Regions from separate parts of the Homo sapiens genome. Here region 1 is linked to region 2. The links come from fine-mapping of genetic effects on gene expression. A gene starts in region 2. The other region holds a variant in brackets. All regions are shown on one strand. Distances are from middle to middle. Region 1 has its middle 39 kb from the start of WIPI2. Region 2 holds the start of WIPI2 (WD repeat domain, phosphoinositide interacting 2).

Region 1 (5,377 bases), 38 kb after region 2:
AGTCAAAGTTCACTGGAGGTGTCCTGTATACAAAGGTGAAACAGGTGCTCTGCAGAGGAGACAGGAGGCTGCCTTATGATGTTAAAAAAAAAAAAAAAAAAAAGGGGCAGGGGTCTGTTGGTGAAAAATCATTGGCAGCCACCAGGCAGTCAGGAGCCTCCATGGCTTCTATTTTTGGGGGAATGAAGAAATTGATCTTGGTGGCTCACACCCGCAGTCCTAGCACTTTGGGAGTCTGAGGCAGGAGGATCGCTTGAAGCCCGGAATGCAAGACCAGCCTGGGCAACAGAGTGAAACCTTGCCTCTACAAAAGATACAAAAATTAGCCAGGCATGGTGGTGTGCGCCTGTAGTCCCAGATACTTGGTAGGCTGGGGTGGAAGGATCTCTTGAGTCCAGAAAGTTGAGGCTGCAGTGAGCTTTGACCACACCACTGCACTCCAGCCTCAGCAACAGAGTGAGACCCTGCCTCTGAAAAGGAAAACATTGTAATATAAAAATATATTATTTATATATAATATATAATATGTATTATAGGCCCAGTGTGACGGCTCATGCCTATAATCCCAGCACTTTGGGAGGCTGAAGGACACAGATCACTCGAGGTTAGAAGTTCAAGACCAGCCTGGCCAACATGGTGAAACCCCTTCTCTATTAAAAATATTAAAAAAGGGCCAGGCACGGTGGCTCACACCTGTAATCCCAGTACCTTGGGAGGTCGAGGTGGGCAGATCACCAGGTCAAGAGATTGAGACCATCCTGGCCAACATGGTGAAACCTCATGTCTACTAAAATTACAAAAATCAGCTGGGTATGGTGGCATGTGACTGTAGTCCCAGCTATTTGGGAGGCTGAGGCAGGAAAATCACCAGAACCTGGGAGGCAGAGGTTGCAATGAGCCAAGATTGGGCCACTGCACTCCAGCCTGGGTGACAGAGCGAGACTCTGTCTCAAAGAAACAAAACAAAAAATCAGCCAGGCATGGTGACACATGTCTGTAATCCTACCTACTTGGGAGGCTGAGGTGGGGAGATCACTTGAACCTGGGAGGCAGAGGCTGCAGTGAGCCCAGATTGCCCCAGTGCACTCCAGCTTGGGTGACAGAGCGAGACTGTCTCAAAAAAAAAAAAAAAAAAAAAAAAAAGTCACCGGGTGCAGTGGCTCATGCCTGTAATCCCAGCACTTTGGGAGGCCGAGGTGGGTGGATCACAAGGTCAGGAGATCAAGACCATCCTGGCTTACATGATGAAACCCCGTCTCTACTAAAAATACAAAAAATTAGCCAGGCGTGGTGGCGGGTGCCTGTAGTCCCAGCTACTCGGGAGGCTGAGGCAGGACAATGGCATGAACCCGGGAGGCGGAGCTTGCAGTGAGCCAAGATCGAGCCACTGCACTCCAGCCTGGGTGACAGAGCAACGCTCTGTCTCAAAAAAAAAAAAAGATATCATCTGTTACATATTATATATAATATAAACTATATATTTATAATATGAACTATATGATATAAAAATCTTTATAAAGACATATTTATATAATATATAGTATATAATATATAATACAAACCATATTATATAAAATATATTGTAATTTATATATAAATAGTTTTGCATTTATGTATTTTTATATTACATAAAAATATATTTATATTACATATAAAATATATTTATGCAATATATTACATATAAATAACATTTTATATTACATATATATAATTATATATATTTTTTTCTGAGACAGAGTCTTACTCTGTCACCCAGGCTGGAGCGCAATGGTATGATCTCAGCTCGCTGCAGCCTCCACCTCCCGGGTCAAGCGAGTCTCCTGCCTCAGCCTCCAGAGTAGCTGGGATTATAGGCACCTGCCACCACACCTAGGTAATTTTTCTATTTTTAGTAGAGACGAGGTTTCACCATGTTGGCCAGGCTGGTCTCAAACTCCTGACCTCAGGTGATCCACCCACCTTGGCCTTCCAAAGTGCTGAGATTACAGGCGTGAGCCACCATGCCTGGCCTATTTTATATTTATATTTTATATATCCATATTTTTATATTTTACATACAAATATATATTTTTATGTTATATATATTCATTATATATTATATATATAAAATATCAAACCATGGAGACAGTGTTAAGCATCTTCCCAGTACATGGCCCTGATAAAATGCCATTTTTCCTGTTGCTATTTTTTCCCAGTGGAGACCTGGAAGCAGGATGGCACAGAAGACCCGGAATGAGCCAGTGCGGTTAACAAGAGGAAGCACATGAATTGGAAAGCTCAGTGAGCTCTTGTTTAGATAATAGGATCCATATATCACTAGTGATATGTTCCTTGATTCTCTTGTGATCCATAGATTCCTTCTCCCTCTCTTCCTTTCCTCCGTCCCTCTCTCTGTTGGCATTTTATTTGTAGAAAAAAGTGTAGAATTTCTTACAGCCTGGATTTTGCAGATTGTCTCATTGTGGTGTCATTTGACATATTTTTCTGCTGCCCTTTTATGTCCTGTAATTTGTTGATTAGATCAAGAGGCTTAGACTCAAGTTTTTTTTTTTTTTTTTTCCCCAGGATTACTCATAGGTGATGTCGTGTACAGCCATATAGATGGACAGGATGTCTGGTTTTCTTATTTTTTTTTTTTCAAAAAGATGTCAGCAGTCATTGGTGATCATTACCTAAGGGTGTTTTTGTTTGTTTGTTTGTGTTTGAGATGGAGT[C/G]TTGCTCTGTCGCCCAGGCTGGAGTGCAGGGGCGCGATCTTGGCTCACTGCAAGCTCCGCCTCTTGGATTCACGCCATTGTCCCGAGTAGCTGGGACTACAGGCGCCTGCCAACACACCCGGCTAATTTTTTGTATTTTTAGTAGAGACGGGGTTTCACCGTGTTAGCCAGGATTGTCTCGATCTCCTGACCTCGTGATCCACCCGTCTTGGCCTCCCAAAGTGCTGGGATTACAGGCGTGAGAAAAAAAAAGTTTTTTAGAGATGATGTCTTGCCATGTTGCCCAGGCTGGTCTTGAACTGGGCTCAATCGATCCTCCCACCGTAGGCTCCCAAAGTGCTGGAATTACAGGTGTGAACCACCAAGCCCAGCTAGAGCACTCATTTAGGAGTCTAGTTTTCTGACTCCTTCGGAGTCACATGGATTTTTTTAATGAGAAATAATCATTGGTGATTTTTTTTTTTTTTTGAGATAGTCTCACTCTGTTGCCCAGGCTGTGGATTAGTGGCATGATCTTGGCTCACTGCAACTTCCACCTTCTGAGTTCGAGCAATCCTTCTGCCTCAGCCTCCCAAGTAGCTAGCACTACAGACAGGTGTGCACCACCACACCTGGCAAATTTTTTTTTTTTTTTTTTTGGAGACAGAGTCTTGCTCTCTTGCCAGGCTGGAGTGCAGTGGTGTGATCTTGGCTCACTGCAACCTCTGCCTCCTGGGTTCAAGCGATTCTCCTGTCTCAGCCTCCTGAATAGCTGGGACTACAGGTGCGCACCACCACACCCAGCTAATTTTTGCATTTTTAGTAGAGACGGGGTTTCACCGTGTTGGCCAGGGTGGTCTTGATCTCTTGACCTCAGGATCCACCTGCCTCGGCCTCCCAAAGTGCTGGATTACAGGCATGAGCCACTACTTCCGACAAATTTTTGTATTTTTTAGTAGAGACAGGGTTTCACCATGTTGCCCAGGCTGGTCTTGAACTCCTGGCCTCAAGTGATCCACCCACCTCAGCCTTCCAAAATGCTGGGATTACAGATATGAGCCACCACGTTCGGCTTTATCAGTAATTTTTAGAGCACTTTTATTTTGGGAGCTCTATTACAGCAGTTTTATCCATGTCCTAAATAATATAGTTGCATACGTTCTTAGCTCTCATTTTGTAATTAGAGTTGGAATATTCCCCTTCCCATTCATTTTACAGGAGTTTTCATGTTATCTTGATATTAGAAGATGATAGCTGTAAGAGTTTTATTTTCTCTCTTACTAGGGAAGATAGGAAAAATAATAAAGATTTTATCTTTGGAAAAATAAACAAGTGATAGACAAATCTCTGGTGACACTAATCAATATAAAAGAGAAATTATTGGAAAACTCTCTAAAAATAGATATAGGAATTTAATTTTTTTTGCTACTGTTTCATAGCAACCATGAATTTATTGGGAAGGAAAACATTTTCAACCATTTATTATTACTTTTTCTTTTCTTTTTTTTTTTTTTGAGAGGGAGTCTCAATTTGTTGCCCAAGCTAGAGTGCAGTGGCGCTGTCTCTCCTTACTGCAAACTCTGCCTCCTGGGTTCAAGCAATTCTCCTGCCTCAGCTTTCCTAGTAGCTGGGATTACAGATGCCTGCCACCACACCCAGCTAATTTTTGTATTTTAGTAGAGACAGGGTTTCACCATGTTGGCCAGGCTGGTCTTGAACTCCTGACCTTGTGGTCCGCCCGCCTTGGCCTCTCAAAGTGCTGGGATTACAGGCATGAGCCCCCTCCCCCAGCCTATTATTACTTTTTTTTTTTTTGAGACAGGGTCTCGCTCTGCTGGTCAGGTTGGAGTGCAGTGGTGTGATCATAGCTCACTGCAGCCTCAAGCTCCCAGGTTCACGCGATCCTCCTACCTTGGCCTCCCAAAGTGCTGGGATTACAGGTGGGAGCCACTGTACTAGCCTTTGTACCATAATAAAATAAAGTCAGCCCTTCATATTTGGAGGGGATTGGTTCCAGGACACAACCCCTTTGTATTAGTTCATTCTCATACTGCTATGAAGAACTACCTGAGACTGGGTAATTTATAAAGAAAAGAGGTCTAATTGACTCACAGTTCTGCAGCCTGTACAGGAAGCGTGGCTGGGGAGGCCTCAGGAAACTGACAGTCATGGCGGAAGGCAAAGGGGAAGCAGGAATGTCTTACATGGCCAGAGCAGGAGGAAGAGAGAGAAAGACGGGAGGTGCTGCACACTTTTAAACAACCAGCTCTCATGATAAGTCACTCACTCTCACGAGTACAGCACGAAAGGGGAAACCTACCCCCATGATCCAATCGCCTCCCACCAGACCCACCTCCAACACTGGGGATTATAATTTTTTTTTTTTTTTTTTTTCCTGAGATGGAGTCTTGCTTTGTTGCCCAGGCTGGAGTGCAGTGGTGCAATCTCAGCTCACTGCAGCCTCTGCCTCCCGGCTTCAAGCAGTTCTCCTGCCTCAGCCTCCCAAGTAGCTTGGATTACAGGCATGTACCACCATGTCCGGCTAATCTTTGTTTTTTTAGTAGAGACGGAGTTTCATCATGTTGGCCAGGGTGGTCTCGAACTCCTGACCTCAGGTGATCCACCTGCCTCGGCCTCCCAAAGTGCTGGGATTACAGGTGTGAGCCAGCGCGGCCAGCCGGGGA
Region 2 (5,318 bases):
ACACGTTGTTATGCTATTATTTCTAAATTCACTGTCTTCAGAATTCTACTCTGTAAACAGAAAAAAAAACAGCATGGCAGAGCAGAAAGAACATTGGAAGAGAGCTCAGGAGGCGAGATTCCACTCCTGCCCCCGCTCCACTATTAACCAATTCCAAAACCCAGACCAGCTTGGAGCCTTTCGGAAGGATTTCCTCATCTGTAGTTGGATGAGGTGATTTGCCCCTTCCGACTCTCAATACAGTCCCACTGTGCGACTGTCTTCACAGCTTTGGGGAGGTGCTATTGAGTGCCTGCTGTACACCACCCACTGAGTGTTGTCCATTCTACAATTCACTTTTAATTTCCTAAAGAATCTTACCTTCTGCTATGTTAATTCCACTCAGCCAGTAACAACTCAACCAATGACTTAGTAAGATGCCAAATGCCCCACTCCTTCTCTTTCCTCACTTCCTCTTACTCACTTCCAAGATGGCTCTCCTCCCTGCCAACCCCATAACTCACCCTTCTCTCTCCAGAAAGCTCGCTCATCTATTAACCATCCCCACAAGTCCTCCTCCCAGGCAGCATCCAACCCGTATCAGTGGGGACAAACAGCGTTCCGAATGCACGGGCTGGCATTAAGGCCTTCTCTTGCCCTGAGGATGACCCACCCGCTGGAGCTCTGAGACTCCTGGGGCACTGGTCCGTAACGCCTCTCTTGGCTCAGTTTCTCCCTAGCTAGGTCAGATGCCAAGGTTATTGCTAAGTTTGTTACTTGCTGGAGAAGACATCAAAGTTGATGTCCCAAAAAGAACAGGGAGGGCCGCGCACGGTGGCTCACACCTGTAATCCCAGCACTTTGGGAGGCTGAGGTGGGCGGATCACTTGAGGTCAGGAATTTGAGACCAGCCTGACCAACATGGTGAAACCCTGTCTCTACTACAAATACAAAAAAGTTAGCTGGGCACAGTGGCGCGTGCCTGTAGTCTCAGCTACTCGGGAGGCTGAGGCAGGAGAATCGCTTGAACCCAGGAGGCGGAGGTTGCAGTGAGCTGAGATGGCACCACTGCACTCCAGCCTGGGCAACAGAGCAAGACTCTGTCTCAAAACAAAACAAACCCCAAAAAACAAAAACAAACAAAAAAACAGTGAGAAACGAAGAAAAGAAAATCAAGAGAGAGAGAAGGGTCTTAAGACGATGAAAAGACAAGGAGAAGGGCCTGATTCAAAGGAGAGTGAGTGGGAGACGCTGAGCAAGCAGCGGGAAGAGGAGACGAGAGGAGAGGAAGCGACCCACACCCAGCGCTCCACAGGCGGCCAAGACAAGTCAAGCCCCAAAGTTCGGCCCCAACTTTGCGAGAAGTAGTTAAGTCTGAAGCCAGGGGGCCTCCCCGCAAGAGGGTGAAAGCAGCCCCCTCTCCACCACCTCTCCCGCTCCGGGACCGCAGCTCCAGGCCAGCACCCGAGGGTCTCCCTGGAGGGCGCCCCTCCCTGCACGCCCCGGGCCCGCCCCTGGGGACGCCTCTGCGCGCCTTGGCCCGCGGGGAGGCCGAGCCTGCGACGCCGCCGAGCTTGGCAGCGAGGCCCTCCCCCTAGCCCGGGTCCGACCCTGGCCTCACCCCGACTCCGACCCCCGACCCCGGCCTTACGTGTTGTCCTGGTTGAAGTTGGCGAAGAGCAGCTGGCCGGCGCCGGCCTCCCCGCTCTGGCTCGCCAGGTTCATGGCTGGGCGCGCGGCGAGTGGGCCCGGCCGGGGAGGGCGCGCGCGCGAGGGCGGGTCAGGCTGCACTCAGGGTCGGCGCCGGGCCCCGCTCGCCGCCTCGGTCGCCGCCACTCGCCACCCTGGGATCAACCGCCGCCTCATCCCGTCCCCGCTCTTGTTTATGCTCCAGAGCCGGGGCACCCGGTACGCCTGCGCGGCCCCGCCCCCGCGACGCACGGCCTCGAGCGGCGCAGTCGCACTGCGGAGGCCCCGCCCTCTCACCGCCTGCCTGGGCTTGGGTTCCGGTGGATCACGCAGGCGTGGGGACGCGTCGGGGCGCGCTGGGCCTGGCTGAGGGCGAGCGGCGGCCGCTCATGCGCATGGGGCAGAGCTGGCGGGAGTCTGTTTTCTGCGTACCCTCCTCTTAATAACACTCAATGGCCAGGCACGGTGGCCTGTAATCCCAGCATTTTGGGAGGCCAAGGCGGGCGGATCACCTAAGATCAGAAGTTCGAGACCAGCCTGGCCAACATGGTGAAACCCCGTCTCTACTAAAAATACAAGAAAAATTAGCCGGGCTTGGTGGTGTACGCCTGTAATCCCAGCTACTCGGGAGGCTGAGGCAAGATAATCGCTTGAACCCAGGAGGCGGAGATTGCAGTGAGCCGAGATCATGCCACTGCAATCCATCCAGCCTGGGCCATAGAGCGAGACTCTGTCTCAAACAACAACAAAAACAAAAACAAAAACACCCCAATGGGCCCTCCATGTGCCAATCACTGTGCTGAATGCTTCTGCGCATTACCTTATCATTTTATTATTTTGAAAGACAAGGTCTCGCTCTGTTGCCTAGGCTGGAGTGCAGAGGCTCAATCACAGCTCACTGCAGCCTCAAACTCAGGCTCAAGCGATCCTCCCACCTTAGCCTCCCAAGTAGCTGGGACCACAAATGCATGCCACCACACCCTGCTAACTTTTAAGTTTTTTGTAGAGATGGGGTGGGGGCGGGGGGGGTCTTACTCTGTTGCCTAGGCTGGTCTCGCACTCCTGGCCTCAAGTGATGCTCCCACCTCGGCCTCCCAAAGTACTGGGATTACAGATGTGAGCCACTGTGCCCAGCCACATTATCTTATTTGATGCCCATTACAATCCTAAGTAGAGAATAGTATATCTTAATTTTACAGATTTGAAAATCGAGGCTCAGAAATAATTATTAGCCAAGTGCTAGATCTGAGACTGGAAACGTCCTGTTTCTCCAAGGTCCATACTGTCTGGGTTCCTGGGACAGAATCGTCCCTTAAATTTATTCATTCATTCAACAGTATTTAGGACGCACCTCTCATGTGAACTAAATAGGCCTCCTCCTTTCCCTCAGAGAAGTTATAATGGGGAGATATTTAAATATAAATAGAAGGCCAGGTGTGGTGGCTCTTACCTGTAATCCCAGCACTTTGGGAGGCTGAGGCGGGTGGATCACCTGAGGTCGGGAGTTCCAGACCAGCCTGGCTAACATGGTGAAACCCCGTCTCTACTAAAAGTACAAAAGTTAGCTGGGTATGGTGGTGGGCACCTGTAATCTCAGCTACTAGGGAGGCTGAGGTGGGAGAATTGCTTGAGCCCCACAGGTGGAGGTTGCAGTGAGCCGAGATTGCACCTCTGCACTCCAGCCTGGACGGACGACAGAGTGAGACTCCATCTAAAAAGTAAAATAAAATAGGCTGGGCATGGTGACTCACGCCTGTAACCCCAGCACTTTGGGAGGCTGAGGCAGGTGGATCACCTGAGGTCATGAGTTTGAGACTAGCCTGCCCAACATGGTGAAACCCTGTCTCTAGGAAAAATGTAAAATATTAGCCAGTTGTGGTGGCACGGCCCTGTAATCCCAGCTACTCAGGAGACTGAGATGGGAGAATTGCTTGAACCCAGGAGGTGAAGGCTGCAGTGAGCCGAGATCATGCCACTGCACTCCAGCCTGGGCGACACAGTGAGACTCCATCTCAAAAAATAAAATAAATAAATATAATTAGAAACTCGGGGGTACAATGAGCGAATATATATATATATATATATATATATATATTTTTTTTTTTTTTTTTTTTTTTTTTGAGACGGAATTTCACCTTCTTGACCAGGCTGGAGTGCGATGGCGCAATCTCGGCTCACTGCAACGTCCACCTTCCGGGTTCAAGTGATTCTCCTGCCTCAGCCTCCCGAGTAGCTGGGATTACAGGTGTGCACCATCACGCCCAGTTAATTTTTGTATGTTTAGTGGAGACGGGATTTCTCCATGTTGGTCACGCTGGTCTCGAACTTCCGACCTCAGGTAATCTGCCTGCCTCGGCCTCCCAAAGTGCTGGGATTACAGGCATGAGCCACTGTGCCTGACCATGAATGCATATATAGAAGTCACACAACCTATATTTAAGGGACAGGGACTGTGCTATTGAGAAGGCTCCTGGAAGAGATGAGACCTGAAGTTTGAGTAACTAGTCTAAGGGCATGAAAACACTCTATATGGGAAGGGCTTGAGGATGAGGGTGTGACCTGTCCAAAGAACTCTATGTTCAGAGTGGAAAGGCAGACACAAGGCAAGATTTGGCAGGAGAGACAGGAGGTGGCCAGATCAAGCTGCGTATTGTTACGCAAGGAACTGACCATTATCTGATTATTGTCCATAAGAGCAATGGTCTGCCGTTAAAGACAGGCAGGAAAGTGGAACGATCTAATGAGTGCTTACAGAAGTTAATTCTAATTATAGGGTCAAGAACGCATTGGAAATCATTGAGGAAAGGATGGTCTTTTCAATAAAAGGAATAAGTACCCCTACCTCACACCATATTCAAAAATTAATTTGAGATGGATTACAGTCCTAGATGTGAGAGGTAAAAACAATAGAATTTCTAGAAGGAAACGAGAATGCCTTCATGATTTTGGGATAAACAAAGTAGTCTAAACAGGTACTTTAAAGCGGATGTGTTGGCTCATGCCTGTAATCCCAACACTTTGGGAGGCTGAGGCAGGCGGATTGCTTGAGTCCAGGAGTTTGAAACCAGACTAGGCAACATGGGGAAACCCGGTCTCTACAAAAATACAAAAATTAGCTGGGCGTGGTGGTGTGCGCCTGTGGTCCCAGCTCCTTCAGAGGCTAAGGCGGGAGGATGGCTTGAGCCTGGGAGTTCAAGCCTGCAGTGAGCTATGACCGCGCCACTACACTCCAGCCTGGGTGACAGAGCAAGATCCTGTCTCAAAACAAAACAAGTTCTTTAAAAAGTAGTAACCACAGGCCGGGCGCGGTGGCTCACGCCTGTAATCCAGCATGTTGGGAGGCCAAGACAGGCAGATCACGAGGTCAGGAGATCGAGACCATCCTGGCTGACATGGCGAAACCCCGTCTCTACTAAAAATACAAAAAATTAGCCGGGTGTGGTGGCTGGTGCCTGTGGTCCCAGCTACTCAAGAGGCTGAGGCAGGAGAATGGCGTGAACCCGGGAGGTGGAGGTTGCAGTGAGCTGAGATCGCACCACTGCACTCCAGCCTGGGTGACAGAGCGAGACTCTGTCTCAAAAGAAAAAAAGTAGTAACCACAAAATGAGAGATTGGCCTTCATCAACATTGAGAAGAATGGGCTATTTTCA

Evidence for each region. PIP is the estimated chance that this variant, and not a neighbour inherited with it, causes the effect.
Region 1: its variant is fine-mapped to the expression of WIPI2 in whole blood (TOPMed, PIP above 0.99).

The regions. Positions count from the first base shown.
Region 1 is chr7:5,149,041-5,154,417 of GRCh38, reverse strand. No RefSeq gene overlaps it. Among named protein-coding and RNA genes, the nearest start is that of WIPI2, 39 kb to the left of the region's middle. The variant C/G (reference allele first, on the strand shown) is at 2,715.
Region 2 is chr7:5,186,806-5,192,123 of GRCh38, reverse strand. WIPI2 (WD repeat domain, phosphoinositide interacting 2) reads right to left here and starts at 1,891. Exons shown (of 13, transcript NM_015610.4): 1 at 1,631-1,891. The coding sequence starts at 1,704. RefSeq lists silencers at 1,397-1,446, 1,457-2,106, 4,780-4,909.